Linked DNA regions of Homo sapiens. The gene in region 5 interacts genetically with the main gene of each other region. Each region holds a gene or a part of one and is shown on either strand. Other genes may lie near its edges.

What was found.
Region 1: changes in MTBP (region 5) and EIF3C together harm fitness more than expected from each alone (negative genetic interaction), as found in Homo sapiens cells (one large-scale study listed by BioGRID).
Region 2: changes in MTBP (region 5) and MFAP1 together harm fitness more than expected from each alone (negative genetic interaction), as found in Homo sapiens cells (one large-scale study listed by BioGRID).
Region 3: changes in MTBP (region 5) and RRM1 together harm fitness more than expected from each alone (negative genetic interaction), as found in Homo sapiens cells (one large-scale study listed by BioGRID).
Region 4: changes in MTBP (region 5) and COX5A together harm fitness more than expected from each alone (negative genetic interaction), as found in Homo sapiens cells (one large-scale study listed by BioGRID).
Region 6: changes in MTBP (region 5) and XRN2 together harm fitness more than expected from each alone (negative genetic interaction), as found in Homo sapiens cells (one large-scale study listed by BioGRID).
Region 7: changes in MTBP (region 5) and COPE together harm fitness less than expected from each alone (positive genetic interaction), as found in Homo sapiens cells (one large-scale study listed by BioGRID).

What each region holds. Positions count from the first base shown.
Region 1 is NC_000016.10:28,724,859-28,728,764, reverse strand, and holds part of EIF3C (eukaryotic translation initiation factor 3 subunit C), read right to left. Parts: intron 3,847-3,906; coding exon 3,753-3,846; intron 2,161-3,752; coding exon 1,970-2,160; intron 1,745-1,969; coding exon 1,520-1,744; intron 1-1,519. UniProt on the Homo sapiens protein: Component of the eukaryotic translation initiation factor 3 (eIF-3) complex, which is required for several steps in the initiation of protein synthesis.
Region 2 is NC_000015.10:43,807,504-43,811,409, forward strand, and holds part of MFAP1 (microfibrillar-associated protein 1), read right to left. Parts: intron 2,412-3,906; coding exon 2,252-2,411; intron 1-2,251. UniProt on the Homo sapiens protein: Involved in pre-mRNA splicing as a component of the spliceosome.
Region 3 is NC_000011.10:4,118,727-4,122,632, reverse strand, and holds part of RRM1 (ribonucleoside-diphosphate reductase large subunit), read right to left. Parts: intron 2,789-3,906; coding exon 2,705-2,788; exon of another isoform or gene 2,663-2,704; intron 1,030-2,662; coding exon 868-1,029; intron 493-867; coding exon 413-492; intron 1-412. UniProt on the Homo sapiens protein: Provides the precursors necessary for DNA synthesis. Catalyzes the biosynthesis of deoxyribonucleotides from the corresponding ribonucleotides.
Region 4 is NC_000015.10:74,924,403-74,928,308, forward strand, and holds part of COX5A (cytochrome c oxidase subunit 5A, mitochondrial precursor), read right to left. Parts: intron 2,486-3,906; coding exon 2,364-2,485; intron 1-2,363. UniProt on the Homo sapiens protein: Component of the cytochrome c oxidase, the last enzyme in the mitochondrial electron transport chain which drives oxidative phosphorylation.
Region 5 is NC_000008.11:120,514,679-120,518,584, reverse strand, and holds part of MTBP (mdm2-binding protein), read right to left. Parts: intron 3,371-3,906; coding exon of another isoform or gene 3,367-3,370; exon of another isoform or gene 3,349-3,366; intron 3,283-3,348; exon of another isoform or gene 3,155-3,282; intron 2,661-3,154; coding exon 2,394-2,660; intron 735-2,393; coding exon 485-734; intron 1-484. UniProt on the Homo sapiens protein: Inhibits cell migration in vitro and suppresses the invasive behavior of tumor cells. May play a role in MDM2-dependent p53/TP53 homeostasis in unstressed cells. Inhibits autoubiquitination of MDM2, thereby enhancing MDM2 stability.
Region 6 is NC_000020.11:21,301,693-21,306,186, reverse strand, and holds the start of XRN2 (5'-3' exoribonuclease 2), read right to left. Parts: upstream 2,857-4,494; 5' UTR 2,789-2,856; coding exon 2,714-2,788; intron 2,690-2,713; exon of another isoform or gene 2,649-2,689; coding exon of another isoform or gene 2,340-2,648; intron 1-2,339. UniProt on the Homo sapiens protein: Possesses 5'->3' exoribonuclease activity. May promote the termination of transcription by RNA polymerase II.
Region 7 is NC_000019.10:18,909,145-18,913,050, reverse strand, and holds part of COPE (coatomer subunit epsilon), read left to right. Parts: intron 1-4; coding exon 5-67; intron 68-1,979; coding exon 1,980-2,080; intron 2,081-3,906. UniProt on the Homo sapiens protein: The coatomer is a cytosolic protein complex that binds to dilysine motifs and reversibly associates with Golgi non-clathrin-coated vesicles, which further mediate biosynthetic protein transport from the ER, via the Golgi up to the trans Golgi network.

The DNA.
Region 1 (3,906 bases), on a different chromosome or scaffold from region 5:
CCTGAGGTTCAAGACCAGCCTGGCCAACATAGTGAAATCTTGTCTCTATTAAATATACAAAAATTAGCCTGGTGTGGTGGCACGTGCCTATAATCCCAGCTACATGGGATGGTGAGGGAGGAGAATGGCTTGAACCTGGGAGATGGAGGTTGTAGTGAGCCAAGATTGCACCACTGCACTCCAGCCTGGGCAACAGAGCGAGACTCTGTCTCAAAACACACACACACACACACACACACACACCCCTAAAAGATACACACACACACACCCCCTAAAAGATACACACACAACCCCTAAAAGATACACACACACCCCCTAAAAGAGACACACACACACCCCTAAAAGATCTTTGAGACCAGCCTGGGCAACATAGTGAGACCCTGTCTCTACAAAAAATAAAAAATTAGCCAGGCATGGTGGCACATGCCTGTAGTCCCAGCTATGGTGGCACATGCCTGTAGTCCCAGCTACTATGGAGGCTGAGGTGGGAGGATCACTTGAACCTGGGAATTTGAGGCTACTGCGGGCCATGATCATGCCACTACACTCAGTCTAGGTGACAGTGCAAGACCCTGCCTCAAAAAACAAAAACAAAAAAAAGTTTAAAAGACCAATACCACCGCCGGCATGATGGCTCACTCCTGTAATCTCAGCACTTTGGGAGGCTGAGGCAGGCAGATCACTTGAGGTCAGGAGTTTGAGACCAGCCTGGCCAACATGGTGAAACCCTATCTCTACTAAATTACAAAAATTAGTCGGAAGTGGTGGCGGGCACCTGTAATCCCAGCTACTCGGGAGGCTGAGGTAGAATCGCTTGATCCTGGGAGGTGGCAGTTGCAGTAAGCCAAGATTGCACCACTGCACTCCAGCCTTGGCGACAGAGCGAGACTCCCTCTCAAAAAAAGACCAACACCACCAAAAGTTGACAAGGAACTCCCAAACACTAACAGGAGTGTAAAATGGTATAACCACTTTTGAGTTTCTTACAAGAATGTTCACAGCAGCTTCATACATTAGAGCCAAAAACTGGAAATAAACTGGGTGTCCGCCAAGAGGAAAACAGACACAGTGATATGTTCATACCATAGAATAGAAACACAAATAGGAGGGCTGTTTAAAAACCAGCAGTACCCCCAGACAGGTTCACCAGGTGCTCTACACATAAACATTTCCTAGTTGCCTCAAATATACTTTTACATGATCTACACTTCCAGACACAGCTTTTTTTTTTTTTTGAACAGTCTTGCTCCATTACCCAGGCTGGAGTGCAGTGGCACAACCTCGGCTCACTGGAACCTCTGCCTCTTGGGCTCAAGCACTACCAAGCCTGGATAATTTTTTTTTTTGACACGAAATTATGTGTTTACATGCAGGAGGACTGCAGGATGCTGGCAACTGGGAAAGACCAAGTGTCTACTTAAATTTGCACCGGCCAGACAGGTGGCTGTTCTGGTTAAGCCAGTTTGCCAAGAGGCCAGGGGCCTGGCACTCCTTCACCTCCAAGGCCTCCCCATCCTACCTGCACTGGCGGGTCTGCATGCTGAATGTTGTCCTGCAAGTGGCTCATGAGCATGAGGTCGCGGGCCTGGTACCAGCGCGAGTGCAGAGCATGGTGGTAGATGTGGCAGAGGATGGCACATGTGCGGATCCGGTCTGTGCGGTCCTTGGCGTAGATGTACTTGCACAGTCTCTCCATCAACACAGCCGAGTCCTCGCCCTCATTTTCTGCCTGGTCTTGCTCAGACTGGGGAGGAAGGGAGGTTATTTGCAAAGGAGATCCAGCTTTAAAAGGCACAGGCTCTAGCAACTAAAGATGAGACTCTATCCAGTCTCATTCTAATACCTCAGTTTCCCTCCCTGCTCCACCTGCGGAAGTCTAGAGAGTAACAGATTTGCTGTCAAGTCCTGACAGAAGTGGAGGACAGGTGGACACACCCATTCCCCTCTGCCATGACTGCCACGTGCTCACCTTTGAGGAGCCCTCAGGCGGGGTCAGCTGTCGCTGATGGGCCTTGTAATCAAACTTGTAGTAGGTGTGCAGGATGCGCAGCAGGTAGATGCGGCAGACCTCCTCGGTAGTGCCCTTCTCCTCCAGGTAGCGCTGCACACGCTCGATGATGGCACACACCTGGGCCTCATCCTTCAAGTGCTCCACGTACTCTGGCAGGGAGAGCACCCACCCTTGTCTCAGCTGGGCAGCCAGGCTTTCCCATCTGTCCCCACTCATTCCAATCAACCCGTCCCTCTTCTGCACCCGTCAGAAAAGTCTAGTCAGTGTGCCCCAGAAAGGCCATCTCCCACTCCCAGGACCCAGAACCTTCCAGTCCCACAGCTTAGGAAAAAAATCCCAACTGCCAACCTCTGCCAATAAGGGTCTGCCAGGCCTGGCCCTTGCCTGGTCTCCCACGATTCTCCCTCTGGCTTCCTGTGCTGGAGTCCCACTGGCCTTTTTACTCCTGGAACATCAAGCTCGCTCTCTGCTCCTCCTGTCAGGCGCTGTCTTCAGCTGATTCTTCCCCTAACTCCTCCTCATTGGATCTCACCTCAGGTGGTCCCTACTTAAGGGTGCTTTCTCCAGCTGTTAGCTACAGCAGCCACCCCTCCAGCCACTTCTTACCACAGGGCCCTAGTTTAACTCTGAACTTTATATCATCTAGAATTATTATTATTATTTTTTGAGATGGAGTTTCACTCTTTCGCCCAGGCTGGAGTGCAGTGGTGTGATCTCAGCTCATTGCAACCTCTGGCCCGCTGGGCTCAAGGGATTCTCCTGCCTCAGCCTCCCACATAGCTGGGATTTACAGGCACCTGCCACCATGCCTGGCTAATTTTTGTATTTGAGTAGAGCCAGGGTTTTGCCACGTTGGCCAGGCTGGTCTCAAACTCCTGACCTCAGGTGATTCACACACCTCGGCCTCCCAAAGTGCTAGGATTACAGGCGTGAGCCACTGCACCTGGCCCAGAATTATCTTAACATCATACTATTTTTTTTTTTTTTTGAGATGGAGTCTTGCTCTGTCGCCCAGGCTGGAGTGCAGGGGTGTGATCTCGGCTCACTGCAAGTTCCGCCTCCTGGGTTCATGCCATTCTCCTGCCTCAGCCTCCCAAGTAGCTGGGACTATAGGCGCCCAGCACCACGCCTAATTTTTTTTGTGTGTGTGTGTGTATTTTTAGTAGAGATGGGGTTTCACCGTGTTAGCCAGGATGGTCTCAATCTCCTGACCTCGGGATCCGCCTGCTTCGGCCTCCCAAAGAGCTGGAATTACAGACGTGAGCCACCACGCCCGGCCATATCTTACTACTATTATTTTTCAATCTGCCTTTCTCCATCCAGCACAAAAGGTAAGCTTTTGGCTGCCTTGTTAATCACTACACCCTTGACTTGATGGGCACATTCACACTTTTACTGAGTAAACTATGCTGCACTTTCACACCCCAATGCCTCTCATCCAAGCTAAACAAGAGAAGTGAATAGATGCCTTACCCCAAAGGTTCTCAAAGTATAGCCCTGAGACCAGCAACCTGGGAGCAGGCTAGAGGTGCAGGTTCTCAAGCCCCACTCAGACCTATGGAATCAGAAACGATGGGACTGGGAGCCAGCATCTCATCAGGCCCTTCCGTGTGAACGCTAGGTAAGTTGAAAGGCTGGCTTTTCAAGCACTCTGACTTAGTATAATCCTCACAAAGCTCTAAACCTAGTAATATTCCCCACAATTTTCCTCTCAGCAAAGCCCACGCTTGCTCAGGCTCACCTTGGGAGTGAGGGTCAGTATTTTGCATTATTTTGGTAAATTCTTCATCCATTCGTTCCACCAGAGTTAGGATGCAGCCACGGACACGCAGTGGCTGAAAAGGAAGGCGAAGGAGGAGTCAACAAATTAGCCCAGATCTCAGTCTCAAACCTCA
Region 2 (3,906 bases), on a different chromosome or scaffold from region 5:
ACGCCTAGCTAATTTTTTGTATTTTTAGTAGAGATGGGTTTTCACCATGTTAGCCAGGATGGTCTCAATCTCCTGACCTCATGATCCGCCTGCCTTGGCCTCCCAAAGTGCTGGGATTACAGGCGTGAGCCACCGCGCCCGGCCCAAAATTATACATCTTAAATGCTTAAATGTTACAACCTTTACGTCAACCCTTTCAATCTTCTACCAAATATAACATCTCTCTCGTCAGAACCCCTACAGTACTTTACTTTTACTTATGTTATAGTGATTATGTATTCTCGCTAACAGTGCTAAACAGTGACCTTTGCATAGTATATGCACTAAAGCTTACTTACTCAATGAAATAAACAACATTAGTAAGGCTGGATGCAGTTGCTCTTGCCTGTAATCCCAGCACTTTGGGAGGCCAAGGTGGAAGGAGAGTTTGAGCCCAGGAGTTTGAGACCAGCCTGGGCTACATAGCAAAACCCATCTCTACAAAATAGAAATTAGGTGTGGTGGCACACACCTGTAGTCCCAATTACTCAGGAGGCTGAGGCAGGAGGACTGCTTGAGCCCAGGAGAATGAGGCAGCAGTGAGCCATGACTGCACCACTGCACTCTAGCCTGAGTGATAATATTACAATGCTGTGATACATATTTATAAACACATATGCTGAAGGAATTAAAAATAGCACTATCTTGTTTAAGAAAGACTTTTTAAAAACAATTTATTTTGAGACAAAGTCTTGGTCAGCCACCCAGGCTGCAGTGCAGTGGCACGATCACGGCTGACTGCAGCCTCAACCTCTCGGGCTGAAGCAATCCTTCCACCTCAGCCCCTTGATAGGTGACACTACAGGCACGGACCACCACGCCTAATTTTTGTATTTTTTGTAGAGATGGGGTTTTGCCATGTTGCCCGGGCTGAACTCCTGGGCTCAACTGATCTGCTGGCCTTGCCTCCCAAAATGTTAAGATTACAGGCATTAGCCAATGTACCTGGCCCACCAAAGGACTTTCACATACACTTTTCTTATGTATCTTAACTAGCAATGAACTGCTTCTCTAAGAAACTTGATTATTAAAGCTGCGAACTGCTTAAGCAAACAAACTTTATGACCGAAGCAGTACAAGAAGTAGTTCATAATCTCCACTGAATAGTAAGCTACATCTGCTGGAAAACTACCTAAGTAAACACTTCCTGCTAATCAGATAGACCTGAAACTGATTTTGGAGGGTGGCAGGGAAGCCGCCACTGAAGTTTTAACAGCATCTGCAGTGAAAGGCAGGAATTTAGTTGCAGTGGGGATATTTAGAATTTGCCACACGGCACTTGAAAAAGCTAGTCTAGTTTTTGGTGCAAACTGCTTTAACATTAGGAAATAAACCATACAGGGTTAACAGATTGCTATTTTGATCTTAGTCTTTATATGAAAAACAAAGATGACGGCATTCCATCTAATGGTTAGATAATAAACCATTTTTTTTGGTTAGTTACTCTTGGGTACTGTCAGTTCAGAATGAAGTGAACTAACTTTCTGCCACCCAAAAGTGAATTAATGTAAAGCTATTTGCAGAGTTTGGTTTTCACATAACCAAAACTTCTCATTCAGCTATGAAAGAATGACAACTATGTCATGTGGAGGACCTAATTAGTCCACTATCTGTACAGATCACTTCTCTATTTCATTTCCTCAATTTATCTAAGGCTGGGGATGATGGCTCATGCCTGTATTCCTAATACTTTGGGAGGCTGAGGTGGGAGGATTGCTTGAGGCCAGAAGGTCAACACCAGCCTGGGCAACATAGTGAAACCTGGTCTTTACGAAAAATTAAAAAAAAAATAACCAAAAAAAAAAAAAAAGCCAGGCATGGTTGTTGCATGCCTGTAGTCCCAGCTACTCTGGAGGCTGAAGCAGGTGTAAAGCGCAGGACGTCAAGGTTGCAGTGAACTATAATCGCACCACCGTACCCCAGCCTGGGTGACAGCGAGACTCTGTCTCTTAAAAAAAAAAAAAAAGTCTATTACATCATTTCCTATTTTTGAGAGTTGGGGCCAAAAGAGAGAACAGTTGATGCTACTTCTGTCATCCAATTGCTGATGCTTTTCTCTGAGTTTATATTGTTCAGAAGGAAAAAGCAAATGAGAAAGCTGACCACTGGCAAGTGGAAATTACATTCCAGAATATTCTTGAAGAGAAAAATAATTCAAAGTTTCTGAGTTATTCCTACTGCCCAATTTTCTGACTCTCTTTTCACTTCTTACCATGAAGAAGGCACCCCGGTGATAATACTTCTGTAAGAACTTGTATTTGCCCTTAACAGCTTTGTTGGTAATGACTTTGCCGTTTGCCCGAAGTTCAGCTCTCCTCTCTTCCTCAGTCAGGTTTCGCATGCGTTCAATTTCTGCTTTCTCCTTCTCAAGCCTGTCCAGGGAGCAAAACAATTTATTGGTACTGTTACAGCTTCAGAAAGACCAAATTATCTGAAAATAACAGTCCCATGTCATTTCAAGTATTAGTCACCTTCTTTAATTCTAGTCATTGCCTATTAGGAATCAAGATAAGGAGCTCAATAAACAAATGGGTGAGTTAGTCTTCATTATGTTTGCTAGACTAGGTATTGCCAACTTTCAAAAGTTGATTCTAGCCCTTCTGACGTTCAGACATACTATTACTGCTGGGTTTTCCAACATTACAAATTCTCTTTCCCTAAAAGGTCTTCTTAGCTTTAAAAAAAAAAAAAAATCAGTGAATTTAAAATAAGTGTCTGAGGCTTTGCTGGTATTCCTTTATGTAAGTGTATCATAATCATATAGGTGCTTGCATGTCATAAACCAAAGATTACCATCATTAATTAGATTGCAGTAACTTTTTTTTTTTTTTTTCTTTTTGGTGAGATGGAGTCTTGCTCTGTCGCCCAGGCTGGAGTGCAGTGGTGTGATCTTGGCTCACTGCAAGCTCCGCCTCCTGGGTTCATGCCATTCTCCTGCCTCAGCCTCCCGATTAGCTGGGACTACAGGTGCCCGCCACCATGCCCAGCTAATCTTTTTGAATTTTTAGTAGAGACGGGGTTTCACCGTGTTAGCCAGGATGGTCTCAATCTCCTGACCTCGTGATCCGCCCGCCTTGGCCTTCCAAAGTGTTGGGATTATAGGCGTGAGCCACTGCGCCCAGCCAGATTGCAGTAACTTTTTAGCCAGTGTTGGGGAGAGGGAGTGATATCCCTTGTCTCCAAATAAAATGCATACATACACACAATTTTGTGTACAATTTTATATTTTTTTGAGATGGAATCTTGCTCTGTTGCCCAGGCTGGAGTGCAGTGGCATGATCTTGGCTCACTGCAACCTCTGCCTCCCAGGTTCAAGCTATTCTCCTGCTTCAGCCTCCTGAGTAGCTGGGATTACAGGTGTGTGCCACCATGCCCGACTAATTTTTGTATTTTTAGTACAGACAGGGTTTCACCATGTTGGACAGGCGGGTGTCAAACTCCTGACCTTGTGAGCCGCCCACCTCGGCCTCCCAAATTGTTGGGATTACAGGCGTGAGCCACCACGCCCGGCCTTGTGTACAATTTTAAAGGGCACTTAGACTCCTACTCCTACAGGTCCAGGATAAAAATCTTAGAAACTACAGGCTGAGGGCCAGGCGTGGTGGCTCATGCCTGTAATCCCAGCACTTTGGGAGGCCGAGGTGGGTGGATCACCTGAAGTCAGGAGTTCAAGGCCAGCCTGGCCGACATGGTGAAAACCCACCTCTACTAAAAATACAAAAATTAGCTGGGCGTGGTGGCATATACCTGTAGTCCCAGCTACGCAGGAGGCTGAGGCAGGAGAACCGCTTGACTCCCAGGGGGTGGAGGTTGTAGTGAGCCAAGATTGCGCCACTGCACTCCAGCCTGGGCGACAGAGTGAGACTG
Region 3 (3,906 bases), on a different chromosome or scaffold from region 5:
CCAAAGTGCTGAGACTACAGATGTGAGCCACTGCACCTGACCTATTTAATTTTAATAAACTACTGACATATGTGTCCTAGTCACTCATGATTCCTTTATGCAACATAAAGCATAGCTTATCAAAAGTACTATATGACAGAGCAAAATAATAACCCTACTAGTCATCTTAAATTTTAAAAGGATCAATTAAAAATCCCAAGAACCTATTTATACATTCCAAAGTTTTAAGAAAGAAGAAGACACAACTCAATTTTGGTGAAGAGTCAGGAAGCAAATCTGACCAAAATTATTAGTCACTTTTTCTCTTAGATGCTTCAAAAGATTCTTGACAAGTACTTTTGATATTTGGACCCCTGAAATAAGAGAAACCATGATTAAAACATTATTGTTTTCTTTCATATTTTTCCCATACCTTGCATATAGTTTCTCAAATTCCTCTCCCCAAACCTCATCCAGACCAGGACACTCATTTGGACACATCAAAGACCAGTCCTAAAAAGGAAAGGACAAAATCACTCATAAGAAACTTCAAATAGCCAACCATAATCCATTAGAAACACTGCAAGCATAAGGTGACTTTTACAAGCTCTCTTGGAAATTTGCTGTAGAAATAATCATTTTCAGGTTCAGGCCCAAACATCTAGGTCTGCCTGTTTATACATGACCTTTTAAGCATTTAGGTCACAAAGCATCTACTTTAGAGAATAGAAATATAAGAAGACAAGCACGGCATCTCTTAACTTGTTCAGAATGCCTTCTGTGGCATCACACACATATGGGCTCTTCCTAAGCATGACTTAAGATGACTAAAAAAGAGAAAGCTCATGTGAATCAAGTTGCTATTACCAACAAGTACCTATCTCTCACCTGATTAGTCTCCACTCGTTTCATGAAGAGATCCGGAATCCAAAGAGCAAAGAAAAGATCTCTGGCACGCTGCTCTTCCTTTCCTGTGTTCTTCTTTAAATCAAGGAATTCAAAGATGTCTAAATGCCAAGGCTCCAGGTAAATAGCAAATGCCCCAGGACGCTAGTGGTAAATAAATCATAATTCTCTTCAGAATAAAAATGAAACAAAGAAACATCATGTCTCCCAAAGCACTTTTATAGTATCTCCTTTGATTTTCACTACAATGAATTAAATAACATAAATAAAAGTATTATAAAAGTGTAAGTTTTCCATATATAATTGTAAAAGTAATATTTTACAATTCTATGAGTAAAAACGAACGAATGATATAAACAAAATGTGAAACAAGATTAACTTTTCTAAAGTGACATGATGAACTACAGATGGAGCCTCCTCTTCAGCAACAGCCCAGCTCTCTTTACACCACATGACATGTACATAAAGCCCAAAGGAAGTTGCTTTGACAGTATAAGCCATGCTCTTATTGTAGGTCAAAAAGTTGATCTGTCTTATCAAGGTCCCCAAAGTCCATCAGAGAGAAATTCATAAACCAACAAGCGATTAGTGTGCCTACAGTCACAAAAGGCAGACTCTAGTTGTAAACCATCCTGTTGATAAAATAAGGTAAACAACCCAATTCTCTCAACTTTACTGTTTCTTCTATCAATTAGGGAGAGTTTTTGTTTGTTTGTTCTGTTTTGTTTGAGACAAGTTCTAGCTCTACCGCCCAGGCTGGAGTGCAGTGGTATAATCTCGGCTCACTGCAACCTCCTGCCTACCGGGCTCAAGCCATCCTCCCACCTCAGCCTCCAGAGAAGCTGAAACTACAGGCGTTCGCCACCACACCCGGTTAATTTTTGTATTTTTTGTGGAGATGGGGTTGCGTCATGTTGAACTCGTGAGCTTGAACTCGTGGTCTTGAACTTGTGAGCTTACACGATCAGCCCACCTCAGCCTCCCAAAGTGCTGGGATTACTGGCAGGAGCCACTGCATCCAGCCAATTAGGGAGAGTTTTGTTATTCCAGGTAGTTTTTGTTTTTGTTTTAAGAACAACCTAGGCGAGGTGCAGTGGCTAACACCCATAATCCCAACACTTTGGGAGGCCAAGGCAGGTAGATTGCTTGAGCCTAGGAGTTTGAGATCAGCCTAGGCAAGAAAGTGAGACCCCCGCCTCTACAAAAAATATAAAAATTAGCTGGGTGTGGTGGCACAGGCCTATAGTCTGAGCTACATGGGAGGGCTGAGGCAGAAGAATCACTTAAGTCCAGGAGGTCAAGGCTACGGTGAGCCAAGATCGCACCATTGCACTCCAGCCTGGGTGATAAGAGAGAGATAAAAAAAAAAACGAAAGAAAAACCTAGAGCACATGTTACAACCCCATTTCAAGTAACAAATTTATATGAATTACAACTTGAGAAATTCTTTGCAAACGAACTATCATGTAAGAAAGCTGAATAGATCAGTGGCTGTCTAGAGCCAGGGATAAAGTATGTGTGGGTAGGGGTGACAGGGGTGACTGAATGTAAAGGTATATGAGGGAGAAAAGATTTTGGGGTAATGGAAATGTTCTACCTCTTTATCAATGTGGTGATTACACAAGTGTATACATTTGTCAAAACCCATCAAACTGTACATTTAAAGTATATGCATATTAAAATAATTATACCTCCTCAAATTGATTTTACAAGTAAAAAAAAGGTAATTAGAAACTACACATAAATGAACCATCTTAAGTGTATATGACTAAATCACCTTTAGTTCTGATTTCCAGTACTTTCAATTCATGGAGCATACCTTGTTCCCACCTTGATCCACATATCGAGCTGTGTTGTTATATACTCTCAGCATCGGTACAAGGCCATTGGAATTGCCATTAGTCTAAAAGAGAGACCATGATAGAAATGACAGAGGGCACTCAGCAAAGAAAAGAAAAAAATGGCCCCATTCTTTTATCAAAAAAGATGCCTAATTTCTAGGTAGCAATCTATGAAGTTTTACCTGCTCTCCATCTCTACTTCTGCTTTGGAAAAATGCCCAAATAAAATCAACAAAATGTTGAATAAATTACAATTATGTACTAAGTTACCTCATGGCATTTCTAATTTATAATGAGATGTAACAATTACAGGCCAAAGGGATCCAAAATCAAGGTAGCTAAATTTAAACTCTACATCTTCTAAAGGTCGTTATATAAAGATACACTTTGGGTAGAGTAAAAAAGAATATAAACACTACTACAATGCCTTTTTCCCAAAAGAAATCAAGGCAATTTACAATAAGAATTATATGCGATAGCTATATCAGGGCAATAAATAAGGTAAAAGGAGATTCTCAGCAATAAGTGGACTCTAGAATGATGTTAAGAAAATAGAGACTCCTACGACTAGAAGATACTTCATCAAATTCTTTAACCCTTCTGATCCCAACACAAGCCTTTAAACAGTCTAGAAAGATAAGTGAGCAATAGCTCACTCTACCACTGTGTAAAGTGCTGTATATATCACAGCACCTCCAAAACACAACATAATGGAATAATTTCCTTCTGGAACTTTATTCTACAGAGTTAGATATTTTCTTCACCTTACAGAAAAGGAAACAAACTCAGACACAAAATAACTAACTCTAGGCCACATTACTAGTTAAGTAGTGGAGCTAGGATTTAAATCCAAAACTATTATCTTGACTCCCATTGAACAGTAAACTAACAAAGGGCTAAAGTTTACATCATAAAGTGTCAATGCATAAATCTTGAATCCTGGCTCTACCACATATTAAGTGATTGATCTCAGAAAGTAACAACTTTCTAAGTCTCAATTTCCTCACTTGTAAAATTAGACAATGGTACCTTTATTCACAAGGTTATTTTAAGGAATAAAATTCCTGGCATGAGTCTATAATCATAGTTACCTCATAGCGTTGTAGTAAGGGTCAAATGAGTACCTCATGTAAAACATTTATAACAAACTTAACATACAGTAAGCAATCAATCAATGATA
Region 4 (3,906 bases), on a different chromosome or scaffold from region 5:
GGCACGCCCCTGTAATCCCAGCTACTCGGGAATGCTTGAACTAGGGAGGCGGAGGTTGCAGTGAGCTGAGATCATGACACTACACTCCAGCCTAGGGGACAGAGCGAGACTCTGTCTCAAAAAAATAATAATAATTAAATAAAAATAAAGAGGGCAACTTATATATGTACTGTTCAAGGTAGGCTTTTGAAATACCTTGAGAATAACTGCAATTGGACTAAATCCAGAACATCTTAAAGTCTAGAATTACTGGAAAAGAAGGTAGTGATGACAGAATTTTGTGAAGGCAATTAGACATGCCCAGCAGGCAACACGAATAATTAAGTTAACGGGAAAAGTTTTTTCATTTGCCTCCAATTTGAGACCTTAACTGAATTAACTACCAGTGCTGAATGGATTGATAGCCTACAGAACCCTTAATTATCTTACCCATTATAGATAAAGTAATGTCACACTTTTGCTGTTAACGGACCTTAAGTTTCTTTCTTACAGACCACAGTATCTTTTCATGGAGAGCTGTACTTTGAGAATACATATGTCCAGGGCTGGAGACTTTTCACTGTAATATATAGTTACACCTGTGCTGTCACAAGGTTCCTTAGGAACGAATAAGAAGTCAAAAGAACTAAGAAAGTGCCGGCCGGGCGTGGTGGCTCACGCCTGTAATCCCAGCACTTTGGGAGGCTGAGGCGGGCGGATCAACTGAGGTCAGGAGTTTGAGATCAGCCTGACCAACATGGAGAAACCCCGTCTCTTAAAATACAAAATTAGCCTGTAATCCCAGCTACTCGGGAGGCTGAGGCAGAAGAATTGCTTGAACCCAGGAGACCTCGGAGGTTGCAGTGAGCTGAGATCACGCAATGATTGCACTCCAGCTTGGGCGACAGAGTGAGACTCTGTCTCGAAAAAATAAATAAACTCAGAAATTATGACCAAATAAGAAGGAGGAAAATTAGTATATATCCTCCTATGTTTTCATATAATGTATATATATATTTTTTGAGATGGAGTTTCTCTCTCTTGTTGCCCAGGCTGGAGTGCAATGGTGCCATCTTGGCTCACTGTAACCTCTGCCTCCCGGGTTCAAGCAATTCCCCTGCCTCAGCCTCCCGACTAGCTGGGATTACAGGCATGCACCCCCACGCCCGGCTAATTTTTTATTTTCAGTAGAGATGGGGTTTCTCCATCTTGGTCAGGCTGGTCTCGAACTCTTGACCTCAGGTGATCCACCTGCCTCAGTCTCCCAAAGTGCTGGGATTACAGGCGTGAGCCACCGTGCCCAGCCGACACAAATATGTTTAAAGTCAAACACATTTCTACAGTATCAACAGTTGTGTAGTATAACCAGTTCTGGGAAGCTCCCTCTTAAGAATTCCTAACATTTCGTATGACAAATAGCAAGAAGATGAATACACTTTGTAGTTAAATCTTTATATATCCTTTATTATTTCCTTGATAAATTCCTTTCTTTTTTTTTTTAGAGACGGAGTTTCTCTCTTGTTGCCCAGGCTGGAGTGCAATGGTGCGATCTCAGCTCACTGCTACCTCCGCCTCCCGGGTTCAAGCAATTCTCCTGCCTGGGCCTCCCAAGTAGCTGGGATTACAGGCATGTGCCACCATGCCCAGCTAATTTTTTTTTTTTTTTTTTTTTTTTTGAGACAGAGTCTTGCTCTGTCACCCAGGCTGGAGTGCAGTGGCGCTGTCTTGGCTCACTGCAAGCTTTGCCTCCCGGGTTCACGCCATTCTCCCGCCTCAGCCTCCTGAGTAGCTGGGACTACAGGCGCCTGCCACCACACCCGGCTAATTTTTTTGTATTTTTAGTAGAGACAGGGTTTCACCGTGTTAGCCAGGATGGTTTCGATCTCCTGACCTCGTGATCCGCCCGCCTCGGCCTCCCAAAGAGCTGGGATTACAGGCGTGAGCCACCGCGCCTGGCCTAATTTTTATATTTTTAGTAGAGACAGGGTTTCACCATGTTGGCCAGGCTGGTCTCAAACTCCTGACATTGCATGATCCACCCGCCTTAGCCTCCTAAAGTGCTGGGATTACAGGCATGAGCCATCACACACGGCCAAGATAAATTCTTAAAAAAGAAAGAAAAAAAAAAAAGAGAGAAAAAAGAAAAAAGATAAATTCTTAAATGGAATTGCTGAACAAAAGTGTATCATGTACAATTTGTAAGGCCTTGAATAAATGCTGCCAAAGTAGCCTCTAGAAAGATTTTAACTGCAATGTACATTCCTTCTAGTTATATAAGGACTCATTTTAGGCATTTTAACAAATTCAAAAATACAGAATATTCTGATACCTCAGCAATAGCCCACTCATTTACAGAACAATTTTAGCATTATTATTTCACTGACCTTAACAACCTCTAGGATACGAACTGTACTAGCAAAATCATTTAACCGTCTGCATGCCCGCAAAGCAGCATCAATGATTTTGGGCTCTGGAACCATATCATAGGTAACAAGTGTGTTTATCCCTGCAAAATTAAAAAGAAGGGCCATGTCAACCTCGAAGAGCCTCACTTAAACTATGAGTTATTTATATTTTTACTGAATCACTGATGTATGATCTTATCTGTCTGGGTCTCCATTCTCTTACCTATAAAATGAGAGAAACCTACCTTTAACAAATTCTAGATAATAAGATCACAGTGGATCTCCCTTAGTGAATCAGTGGAAAGAAAGAACTATGCAACAGCACGCAGATTGAAGGAAAAAATCCTGAGTTTTTTTTTTCCCCTTTGAGAACAAGAGGGTCATTTTCAACTCCTAACTTTTTTTTTGGAGATGGAGTCTTGCTCTGTCACCCAGGCTGGAGTACAGTGGTGCCACCTCAGCTTACTGCAACCGCTGCCACCTGGGTTCAAGTGATTCTCCTGCCTCAGCCTACCAAGTAGCTGGGATTACAGGCGGGTGCCACCAAGCCCAGCTAATTTTAGTATTTTTAGTAGAGACGGGGTTTCAGCATCTTGGCCTGGCTGGCCTTGAACTCCTGACCTCGTGATCCACCTGCCTCGGCCTCCCAAAGTGCTGGGATTACAGGCATGAGCCACCACATCCGGCCCTCCTATCTTTAACTCTTAGTACAATGAACACATTTTGGATGCTTTAAAAGAGATTCAAGGCTGGGCTCAGGTGGATCACCTGAGGTCAGGGGTTCAAGACCAGCCTGGTCAACATGGAGAAACCCTGTCTCTATTAAAGATACAAAATTGGCCGGGCGTGGTGGCACATGCCTGTAATTCCAGCTACTCTCGAGGCTGAGGCAGGAGAATCACTTGAACCCAGGTGGTGGAGGTTGCAGTGAGCTGAGATCGCGCCATTGCACTCTAGCCTGGGCAATAAGAGAGAAACTCCATCTCAAACAAAACAAAACAAACAAACAAAAAAACCAAAATAAAAGAGATTCAACTGGAAAACAGCCTAAAAACAGCCAGAGAAATGCGTAGAGTTAATGAAGCCTAAATGAGGACATTAAGGAGATATTATAGAGAAACATTAGTACACAGACTCATAAACATTCAACCAGAAAATGATTGGGCATGATTACTTTCAGATCTGCACAAAATGACACATAATAAAATTTAAGATTCTCTTAATGGGAATACATAATTGTTCTTTTTATTACTTCTACTCCAGATTGTTCAGTAAGAATTCTATTGGTTGTAGCAAAAGGGAATCATTACATTTCTGCAGAGAAGTTTAAAGCACTTAGGTTTCTTGCTTTTATTACTTTAAAATATTTAAACAAAGGATACCAGTGAATACGATAGTCATTGAGATTGAATTTTTGGTATGAGATAAATTACCCTACACCTAATTCTATTTTTTCATGTTAAGTGTGCATCTGCAAATTTAGGAAAGACAAGTTCTAACTTACTTAGATACTTATTCATGG
Region 5 (3,906 bases):
GGTTCATTAAGACAAAATGATTGAGAAAAAAAAGATCTAACATTTACATGGTCAGAAGTGTCACAGGAATAATATGTTAGCAGGAAATGACTACAGTGTCTTAAGAAAGGAACTCAAATCATGAGTTCTGAATTGAAATCTGAGTGTTAAAGTTACACACAGCAGGGATATGTAAGTGTATATTTATTTTTTATTATGGGAAATTTCAAGCATAGAAAAGTAGAGAATATTTGACACGCACAGAATATTTTATAACAAATTTCTATCTTGATATATCTTTTAACCAGCTTCAAGTATGATTAATCTGTGGCTAATCTTGTTTCAATTATATCCCCACCTACTTTCCTATCATCCTTCTTACACCAGTAAATTCTAGACATCGTTTCATTTCATTCATAAAATTTTTTAGACATATATTTTAAAGTAATCAAATTTAAAAAGTCTTCCTATGTAGAACTAAGAAAAATGGGAAATAAATCTTTACCCGTGTGTGTTTCTGTGATCTTGATTCCTTAATTTGCCTTGATGTTTTTGATTCATGCATACTTTTTTGACCTGAACTGGTCTTTGTAGCAAGTTTTGGAGTTTCACAGCTAGGAATTGGAACCAATGGACAAGTCACTGGTAAGGACCGTTCTGTTTGTGGCTTTCTGGATGTCACATGATGATGATAGTGATTACTATTACCAGTTGTCTGAGAAAGAAGAGACTCTGAACTTTCAGATTTCACAAGTCTATATAGCAGGGGAAAAAAATCAAGAACGTAGATTAAGCGAATCAACATCGAAGTTCATTTTCTGTCTTAAATATTACAACTATATCCATTAAGTGAATCAACATCGAAGTTCATTTTCTGTCTTACCAGTGTGTTACCACTATATTATACCACTGTTATTACATAATAGATAATATATAACATAATATATTACATAATATATAACACTATACCACTATGTTATAGTGTTACCACTATATCCATTATAACATAAATTCAAGAAAAGCAAACAAAATTTATTGCTATTACTGCCTTAAGTAAGCAATAAACATCATATTATAAAGTTGTTCCTTAGTTCTTCAGATGAGTAACTAACACATAGAAGGTAATGAATAGCAAACTAGGATTTTGGCTAATAGAGAAAGCAACAAACAATATTGTTATACTCTCTCCCATCCCTCCAATTTACAATTTCTCAAATAAATCAGCTATGCATGCCAAGAGTGCTGCTATTTATAGATTTAATACTAATCTGTTAAATATTTATACTTTTCTGTTAAGATAATTTGAACAGAAACACCACAACCTGTATCTTTTTATACCCATGGAACTCCCTTGCAAAATAAGTCATAGTGTTAAAACAAATACAAATAAACTATAAAACTGGTTCATACTTCAATCTTCCTAAAATGTTTACATTTGTTCCTGACAAGGCCCAAATTTTTCCCTTTACAAGATAGGGTCTTATAGCCCTCAATTCTGCTGACCCAGAAGCCACAGTATACATTCCTTTTAGGAACACATATATTTTTATTAGCCATAGGTCAGAAATAAGAAATATGGCTATAAATATAGTACCCCAAATGTAACTGCTGCTTTTTAATTTTATCAGGTATAAAAAGTACCATGAATTTATAAAGTCCTCATAAAAATGACTGAGTTCTTCCATATCAGGGTAACCTTATTCTAACTTTCTTAACTATTCAAAAAAAGATCTGAAAGTTATGTTTTCATATAGTTCATACTTTTTGCAAGGTTTAAATACAATAAGAATTCAAGCCTTGCTTTAGATGCCAAGAACCTAAGTTTGACAAAGGTTCTAAAGATAACATAAATTCAATAAAAATTAGTGTTCACTACATAAACTTCTAACTTCTGATCAAGTATCTGGATATTTCATTTAGTTAGCAAACTAACGCATCCAGAAAAGTTTCATATATTCTATCATTATGCAGTGTTTAAAGCTATATTTTATATGTAACAGGTGTTTTAAAAATGGTACCTCATGGAATCTCTTGCTCAAGGGAACAATGCAGGCAGGAAACTGAGGGGAAAGGAAAGGAAGAGCTAATGGGAGAACTCCCATCCCCAAACAGTCTCTTCAACAGGGCAGCTCAGCAGCTTAATCTATGGGGTGAAATCTCCACTGTTCCATGGCTTAAAAACTTTACAATCCATTGTGCTAATGGACTGTATATTAGCATATAAAGCAAGAAACTGTGTTTTTTTCCCAAATCATTTATTTTTATAACTTATAAGCAAAATTATCAACAGCTCATAAAACAAACTTCTTGCCATGAAGAAATTAACCTGAAAGACTAATATAAAATAAAATAAAAATCCTCGAGACTAAAATACTTTCTGTCAATATACTATTTATGTGCATGTAATATATCACCTTTTTCTGGGATAAAGGCAATTCAGATCTTTAGATCTCCGTTTCAATCGGGATACTTCAGTTCGAAGTTCATTTTGTAAAACTTCTCCGTCAGGGACACTTCCAGGATCTGACGAAACTACAGGAGATGGAAGAGGGCTCAACACAGTAGGTACTGGAAAACTTTCTCTGGTGCAGGTAGTTTGAGTTTCATAACGAATAAGACGAGACTGAAGTTCAGAAAATCCTCCATCTCTTTCCAAAGCTTTTCGGTCATCCAAGCAATATCTAAAATGAGTGAAAGAGCATTAAAATGTAAACCTCCATGAGAGCAACAGACTTTCCCCTTTCAATGAGAAAATAGCAGGACATTTACTTTAAGAGTTCTTGTTTAATTTCCTAATAATTGCTGGAAGGTTGAGTGGCTGGCCTATTTCCCTCCCAAGTTCAGTTTTCTTCTAGTTTGCTATATGATATGGCAAAAGATTAAAAAATGTCTTTCACTTGTGTTTCTCTTTCACTTGTGTTTCTGGGCAACAGATTAAGTTAATCCTTTGGCTTATTTTCAAAATAATACAGTTGCTGTTTTAATGCTTTTTAAAACTCTACCAACCCCTGATTTCTCAGTATGGCTGATATATGACAACATGAACTGCTGACTTCTGTTAGAAAGGGCAAGTTTATTCTCAACACAAAGATTAAAAGGGTATAAAGGCATTCTAAACTGGCTCACCAAACAGCTTAGAACATTTAGAATTTTTTCTTTGAAACTCAGTTCCCACCTTATTAACTAATTGACAGATTTTCCTTCAAACACTTCGGCTGTCTGTGCATGTGGTTTCTAGCTGAATCTGATTCAGGGCATCAATGAAATGTCAGCTCAGTGAATGCTTCTGGACTCAAAGAAATCCTAGGTTGTTAAGTACAACAAACAAGGATATCAGGAAGATCACCTAGGAGCTGTGTGACCTTGGACAACTCTTCACTTTCTTCCTTATCTACAACAGCATTAAAAAAACACAAATGGCTTCACATATGTGATGGTAGCACTGTACAAATTAAAACCTTTCTCTGTGACCTGTCATTTTTACCTGCAAAATTCTAAGATACTGCCTAAAATCAGATTTTTGTATCCAAAAGATTTAGTTCAACTCCCAAGGAGTGTTATCATTTCCTGAACATCTGACTGCTTGATGGAGGTTTTAAGAACCTTATCTTTCCCTTGTGACACTTACATATTTGATACAGACTTACGGAGTCAGAGTCCATGGATTTAAATCCAGGCTCCTCTACTTATTAGCTGTGAGAACTTGGCCAAATTACTTAATTTTATCTATGATTCTGTTGCTTCATCTGCAAAATGAGAATTATAGTACTTATCTGAAAAAGCTATTGTGATAATTTCTTGAATTGTACACATAAACACTTAGAATCAGTGCCTGAAACATGCAAACAGGGCAGTCAAGAAATGTATGTTACTATTATTGTTATCATCATCATTAGATTTATTTTCTACCACAGTAAAGCTGGCAGT
Region 6 (4,494 bases), on a different chromosome or scaffold from region 5:
CCTGCCTGGGTGACAGAGCTAGACTCCGTCTCAAAGAAGAAGAAAAAAAAAACACCTCGAATTCCATGCCTAGCTAATGATCATTCACGTGTATAAGGGTAGAATGGAGCTATTTTGGGTCCTACAATGACTCGGAAATCTCACATCCCACACAGCATTTCTTAAGAATTAAGAATAAGGAGGCCAAGGCAGGCGGATCAGAAGGTCAGGAGATCGAGACCATCCTGGCTAACACGGTGAAACCCCGTCTCTACTAAAAGTACAAAAAAATTAGCCAGGCGTGGTGGCGGGCGCCTGTAGTCCCAGCTACTTAGGAGGCTGAGGCAGGAGAATGGCGTGAACCCCGAAGGCGGAGCTTGCAGTGAGCCGAGATTGATTGAGCCACTGCACTCCAGCCTGGGAGACAGAGCGAGGCTCCGTCTCAAAAAAAAAAAAAAAAGAATTAAGAATAAAAACTAAGAAAACGATTTAAAGGAAGAAAGATGGGCCGGGCGCCGTGGCTCACACCTGTAATCCTAGCACAAGGGAGGCCCAGGGAGGCGGATCACGTGTGGTCAGGACAGAGACCAGCATAGCCAACATGGCAAAACCCCGTCTCTACTAAAAATCCAAAAAAAAAAAAAAAAAAAAAAAGGCCACGTATGGTGGCTCATGCCTGTAGTCTCAGCACTGTGGAGGCTGAGGCAGGCGGATCACCTGAGGTCAGGAGTTCGAGACCAGCCTGACCAACATGGCAAAACTCCGTCTCTACTAAAAAAAAATCAGCTGGGCGTGGCGGCGCACACCTGTAGTCCTAGCTGCTCTGGACGCTGTGGCAGAAGAATGGCTTGAACCCAGGAGGCCAGAGGTTGTAGTGAGCCGAGATCATGCCACCGTACTCCAGCCTAAGAGACATAGCGAGACTCCGTCTCTAAATAAATAAACAAATGAAGTAAGATGATGATCCAGAAAACAGTACCTCCCACTGAAGAAAGATATGATAGCAATAATAATAATAAAATCCCAGATGCAGCTTTCCAGCAAGCCTACAGAATAGCCAGGTGTGACAGCAACAAAAATAAATAAGACCCCAAGAAGGACTATTCAAGAAGAAAGATGACTCTTGATAGACTACCTGGTAAAATAGAGTCCGGGCGCGGCAAGATGTAAAGTGGAAAAAGAAAGACAGCCCCAGGGAAAAAGACAAAAGCAGCACAAAAAACAAAATCACAGTACATAACCTGAATCTACACAGTGTCAATAGTCAACTATCCTATCTGATTTTTCAGCATTTTAAATCTGTATAGTCAAAGCCCTGATCATTTAATTTTGGATGCCCACAACGCAAAAGTACAGCTGACAAACTTGAGGTGAAAGGGAAGAAAAGCTAAGATCGACCTTAGAAAGCATTGAGTCAAGGGATACGTTACACAGGCGATGGAATGAAAAAGGCAAATTACTTAGTTATAAAGCTTACCAATAAAAATATATATCTAGTGATTTACTCCATTAAGAGTATAGAGGGAGGGCTGAATAGGTGACTAAATCCTCTCCTATTCCAGCTAGAATTCAACAGATCTAAAAGTGATAACGTATAAGTATGATACTTAGAGACAGAACCAAAACAGTTAAAGGTGGAGAAATGGGATGAGAAGGGGTAGAGCAAGAACTGTTGCTTTTTGTTTAACCCACGTGCAAGTAAAGTTCAATAAAGTTCGATTAAAATTTTACAAAGGAAACAAGTATTCAATTTAGCAGTTGCTTTTTGAAAAAAACAAGAAATAGTGGGAATGTCACTAAGACAAGGCTTTTGGTTCCTCCTTGGATAGAAGCCAAGAAAGTTAAAAAAAAAAAAAAAAGCAGAAATAAGTTCACAGTGACAGGCAAGCACTGCCTTCAAAAACTAAGGAGTGAGGTACGCGTGATGTGCCTCTGAACGTTTCCAATCCAGAAATTCTAATTAAGAGCACAAAATCGAATCCGCATGGAATGACGAAAACAATAAAAACAAAACTCAATAATGGCCAAAAATCTACTTACGTATTAACTAACAACAAAAATTGTACTGCTCAAGTACATCCAGTAATCTTGAAATTTTCAACAAGCACCCACCCCGTTCAGTAGTCAGGGCACACAGAGAAGGGTAACTTCTCAGAATTCTATAGCGCTCATCCTGGACCTGACATACTGCTTTCAGCGTCCAATCTAACCAGAACAACAAATGGTCCTGAACACTAGGAGAAAACCTTTCCGGCACAATTGGTAAACAACGAAAAGGTCGCCGCCAGGGATTCCTTTACAAGGTTGTCAAAAAGCTGGCCTCCGAATCCGTGCATCCATAACCCGCTAGCTCAGCTGACCTGGCATGCATTGCTCAACAACAGCCTCTGAACCTCTTCCGAGACCCAAAATGCGCGGTCTGGAGAGGAAACAAAGCAGTGGGCGGGGCCTTCCGGTGCCGGGAAAAAGCGAGTAGGGGAGGAGCGACCCTCCTGCGAGTTCGGAACCCTATAGGCCCTTGCCCCGCCGAGGGTCCTGAATTCCTCGCCCCCGGGGTGCTGAATCCCACAGCCCGCGTCCCATCGCGTGTGGGGCTGCGACTGCTCGCGAGGCTGGCAGCAGGGCGCGAGCTCCGGCAAGGCTCCCCGGGGGCAGGCGGCGGAGCCCATGGGCCGCGGCCTAGACGTGCCGGGGGCCCGGGCTCGAGTGTGGCGGCCGCCTGGCGCCTCCTCACCTTCTCTTCCACGCAGTTGACTATGATGGACGGGTACTTGCGGCTGAGCCAGCGGAAGAACGCCGGGACTCCCATAGCGGCACACGGCTGGAGGCGGCGGCCGACCGGCTGACGAGCGTAACCAAAGAGACGGGAGCAGCGGCAGAGGGCACCAGCACTTCCTCCCACGTGCGCGCTGGAGAACGGAAGTGACGTCACGGCGCCGCCGCCGGGGAAGCTGGGAAGGAGGCTTCGCTGGATGAGGGAGCGGCGGAAAAGGGCCTTGCCGGGCTGTTTGTGGGAGGCGGAGTCCGGCGGCGGACCGGGTGGCGAAGGCTGCAGCTCGCCCTCGGTGGTCCCAGCCCCGGAGCGCGAGGCCGAGCGCGTCTGAGTTGCGGGGGCTCACGGGCGACTGCTCTGCCGGGGCTCCGCCGGGATCTCCCAGCCCCAGCCCTCCGGCTCCCTGGGCACAGAATCGCTGCGCTCTGCATGCCCGGGAGGAGGTCTCCCTTGCCCGTTTGGTCACCTCTTGTTTGGAAGAAAATGTCTTTTTTTGCCTCTATGCTCACCCGTCTCAATCTAGGGTAGAATCGAAGCATCCAAACTTACTCGTTACTTCCATTTCCTGGTTTCTCCTAGTTTTGTGCTGCAGTACGTACCTGGACTATCAAAAGGAGCATTTTAAAGCATTTTACAGTAATAATGGCTGCTTTGCACCAATAATTTGATTGTTATGCAAATAAATAATTATGATAGTTACCGAATGGAATCTAGCCGGTATTTAGCATCCAATACAATCTTCCAGCTACAATTACGGGTATAAAATAGTTGCTAATATGATTTTCCAGCATTTACTGAGCCTTTACAGTGTACCAAGACATTGACTAAGGGATTGTCCTATGTAATCTTCACTTGAACCTTGTGAGGGTACTGTTAGCACCCTCGTGTAAATGATAAGAAAGCCAAGTTACAGAGGAGTTAAGTCACTTATGCACATAGCTTCTGTTTCAGTTCAAGCAAAGGTCATTTTTAATCCATCCTTGTTCTAACACGATACTTTTATCTTTTGTTTTCTGGTGGTCCCAAACGAATTTTTTCCATATGAAAGGAGAGGTCTGGAAGAGGAGGTATATTTGTCCGTTTGCTCAAGCCTGGAAGTCTCCCTGAATCCCCTCTTGGTTTGACACACATCACACACGATGCTAAATGCTCACCTCATGAGGCCTCTGTGAAAGTATTTCGCCGAGTTACCTCACAGGCAGTATTTATTGCCCCCTCCTCTGTGGTCTGATGACTACTTTGTTTAAACTACTAGTGTGGAAATTAGAGAAATAGTCATCCCGTGTTTTACTTAAGGATAGCCAAAACTATTCCAAAGTATTATGTCTATGGTGAAATTCCTCCTTTTACCTGGAAGCAGCCCCTCTGGTTTCCCTGGGAGGTGCTGTTATAGGAACATGTACACCATAGGCAGTTCAGGGATAGACAGCTGGCCAAGTTGAGCCATTTAGAATCCTTAACCAGCATTTTGGCGGGTTGGGAGGGTTTATTGTTTTGTTTTTGTTTTTTCAGACGGAGTCTCAGTCATCCAGGCTGGAGTGCAGTGGCAAGATCCAGGCTCACTGCAACCTCCACCTCCCGGGTTCAAGCGATTCTCCTGCCTCAGCCTCCCGAGTAGCTGGGATTAGAGGCGCCTGCCATGACACCCCGCTGATTTTTGTGTTTTTAGTTGAGACAGGGTTTCACCATGTTGGCCAGGCTGGTCTCGAACTCCTAACCTCAGGTGATCTGCCCACCTCGGC
Region 7 (3,906 bases), on a different chromosome or scaffold from region 5:
ACAGCTATCAAGCCCAGAGAGAGACGTGGAGAGGGACGTCTTCCTGTATAGAGCGTACCTGGCGCAGGTGAGTGCGGGCCTTGGCCGGGGGCAAGAGTGATGAACAGAGTAGAGGGTGGGGCTGGGGACAGGAAGGCACCACAGAGTGGGTGGCGGGGACAGTAAACAAAGCAGGGACCCAGGCCTGCAGTGTTCAGTGACTGTGAACAGCCAGCGCAGCCAGCATGTGAAGGTGGCTGTGTCACGGAGGCCTGAGACTGCCAGGCCAGGGGGCCTGGGTCACAGCTTCTTGATTTTTTTTTTTTTTTTTTTGAGACGGAGTCTCACTCTGTCGTACTCGATCTCAGCTCACTGCAACCTCCGTCTCCTGGGTTCAAGTGATTCTCCTGTCTCAGCCTCCCAAGTAGCTGGGACTACAGGCGTGCGCCACCACGCCTGGCTAATTTTTATATTTTTAATAAACACGTGGTTTCACCACATTAGCCAGGGTGGTCTTGAACTCCTGACTTCATGATCCACCTGCCTCAGCCTCCCAAAGTGCTGAGATTACAGGCGTGAGCCAACGCGCCCAGCCGATTTTTTTTTTTTTCCTAAAATAATTGGTAGGAGCCAGGCACAGTGGCTCACACCTGTAATCTTTGGGAGGCTGAGGTGGGAGGATCACTTGAAGCCAGGAGTTCAAGACCAGCCTGGGCAACATAGTGAGACCCCCGTCTCTACAAAAAAAAATTAAAAAATAAGACAGTCATGGTGGCATGTGCCTGGAGTCCCAGCTAATTGGGAGGCTGTGGCAGGAGGATCAGTTGAGCCCAGGAGGTCAAGATTACAGTGAGCCGTGATCACGCCATTGCACTCCAGCCTGGACAACATAGCAAGACCTTGTCTCTAAAAAAATAAGAATGGGGGCTGGGCCCGGTGGTTCACGCCTGTAATCCCAGCACTTTGGGAGGCCAAGGCGGGCAGATCACCTGAGGTCAGGAGTTCGAGACCAGCCTCAACATGGAGAAACCCTGTCTCTACTAAAAATACAGAATTAGCCAGGTGTGGTGGTGCATGCCTGTAATCCCAGCTACTTGGGAGGCTGAGGCAGGAGAATTACTTGAACCTGGGAGGCAGAGGTTTCGGTGAGCTGAGGTCACAGCATTACACTCCAGCCTGGGCACCAAGAGCGAAACTCCATCTCAAAAAAAAAAAAAAAAGGCCGGGCGTGGTGGCTCACACCTGTAATCCCAGCATTTTGGGAGGCCAAGGTGGGTGGATCACAAGGTCAGGAGATTGAGACCATCCTGGCTAACACAGTGAAACCCCGTCTCTACTAAAAATACAAAAAAATTAGCCGGGCGTGGTGGCGGGCGCCTGTAGTCTCAGCTACTCGGGAGGCTGAGGCAGGAGAATGGTGTGAACCTGGGAGGTGGAGCTTGCAGTGAGCCGAGATCACGCCACTGCACTCCAGCCTGGGCGACAGAGCGAGACTCCGTCTCGAAAAAAAAAAAAATGGGGAAGGAACCATCTAGGAGGGAACACAATGAGGGACGGGCCCCCAGCTGCAGATGTGACAGTGGTATCAGTCTGGGCATCCTCAGAGGGCCAGTAGGTGGGCAGGGCTGGCTGGGGGCATGTCCTGCTTTATAGAAGCGCATGTCACAACCCCCATAACTGCTGCTGCCCTGCCCCCAGGTGACACGCCCTTCACCTCACCACCAGAGGTGGACAGCTGCCAGGGGATAGACAGTAACCTACCAGGGTCCCTAGCTCAAGGCATGGGCAGTGTGGCCCTGCAGATGAGGGCACACCTGGCTGCTCACGACAGGTGACGCCATGCCACCCTCCACAGTGTACTGCAGTGGAGGTGGCCCATGCTGGGCTGAGGGGTCCCTGGTGGGGCAGGGACTTCCTGTCTGGGGCTCTCCCTGCCAAGCTGAAGACATGGAAATCCTCTGGGGTGGACGGGTGCAGCTGACGCCTCGTCCCTACTGCAGAGGAAGTTCGGTGTGGTCCTGGATGAGATCAAGCCCTCCTCGGCCCCTGAGCTCCAGGCCGTGCGCATGTTTGCTGACTACCTCGCCCACGAGAGTCGGAGGTGAGGCCCCAGAGAATGGGTTGGCCTGAGGCGCGGGGCCATCTTCAAGGCCTGTTGGTTATGAACCTGGGTGGGTGGGGGCATGGCGTGCAGCGCACAGCATCCCTCAGATTAGGCGCCTCTCCCCTCTGCTCCCCTGCTGCTTTGTGCCTCAGTTTCCCTCACCTGCACAGCAGTGGGGGGCTGGTGATGGATCCTGCTTCAAAGGGGAGGGTCAGAGACAGTGCTGTGTGTGCACACGCCCTCATGGACCACAAGGCACTCTCTGAACCTAGAACTGAAAATATCAATTACCGAGCAGCCCTCTGCAACACCCAGAGCCCCAAGACAGCCCAGGGCGCAGCGGGGGCAGGGCCCTCCCATCAGTTTTCTTATTTATTTATTTAGAGATGGAGTCTCACTCTGTCACCAGGCTGGAGTTGCAGTGGTGAGATCTCGGCTCACTGCAACCTCTGCCTCCTGGGTTCAAGTGATTCTTGTGCCTCAGCCTCCTGAGTAGCTACGACTATAGCTGCGTGCCACCACGTCCAGCTAATTTTTGTATTTTAGCAGAGACTGGGTTTCACCGTGTTGCCCAGGGTGGTCTCGAACTCCTGAGCTCAGGCGGTCTGCCCACCTCAGCCTCCCAAATCCTATCAGTTTTCTAGTCCCAGCTAGTTGGGGACTGCAACCTGCCAGTATCTCCCCTGGAGCCCAGTGGGAGGGTGGGTGAGGCCACGCCTGTCCTGCCCCTGAGCCACAGGCCAGCGTTGGTCAAACGCCCATGGGCGGCAGCCAAGGGGAGAGGGGGCTGGGCTGTGGGGACCCAGGAACCTTGCCCCCTCCTGCTGTGGGGTCGGAGTGAGGGTCTGGCATGGGGAGACTGCTGTGATCCTGCTCTTCCTTGGCCCACGGAGGCAGTGTCCCAACTACCGCCTCCCTTCACTCAAAGAAACCTGGGGTTCCTGGGAGCTGACTCCTGTGCAGAGGCAGCATGGTGGGGTGAATGGTGTCCCCCAAAAGGTACGTCCATATCCTATCCCACATGCTTGTGAATATGATATCATTTGGAAAAAGGGTCTTTGCCGATCAGATTAAGAGATAAGGAGATGAAGACATGCTGGATTTAGGGTGGGCCCCAAAGCCAAGGACTTGTGTCCTTTTAAGAGATAAAAGGAGGGCTGGGTGCAGTGGCTCATACTTGTAATCCCAGCACTTTGGGAGGACGAGGTGGGCAGATCACCTGAGGTCAGGAGTTTTCAAGACCAGCCTGGCCAACGTGGTGAAACCCCATTTCTATTAAAAATACAGAATTAACAGGATGTGATGTCTGTGATTCCAGCTACTTGGGAGGCTGAGGCAGGAGAATCGCTTGAACCTGGCAGGCAGAGGTTGCAGTGAGCCAAGATCGCACTAGTGCACTCCAGCCTGGGTGACAGCGGGAGACTGTCTTAAAAAAAAAAAAAAAAAAAGGAAAGAGGCCCACAGAGTTAAGCCCATGTGACAACAGACTGGAGTGACATGTCTGCTAGCCAAGGAGCACCACGAGTGGCCAGCAGCCACCAGAGCTGGGAGAGAGGCCTGGGACGGCCTTGCCCTCCAGCCTCCAGCTGGAGCCAGCCCTGCCGCCACCTTGACTTCAGACTTACGGCCTCCAGAGCTGTGAGGAACGAATCCCTGTTGTCCTTAACTGCCCGGGCTGTGGTGCTTTGCCACAGCAGCTCCAGGACATTGAGACAGGTGACCTCCCAGGGCCACTGTTTCTCCCACCCTGCACTTACTTCACCAGCTGGAGTGAAGGCAGGGAACCCTGGGTCCCCCAGGAGCAGCAGCTGCTGTGAGCATCA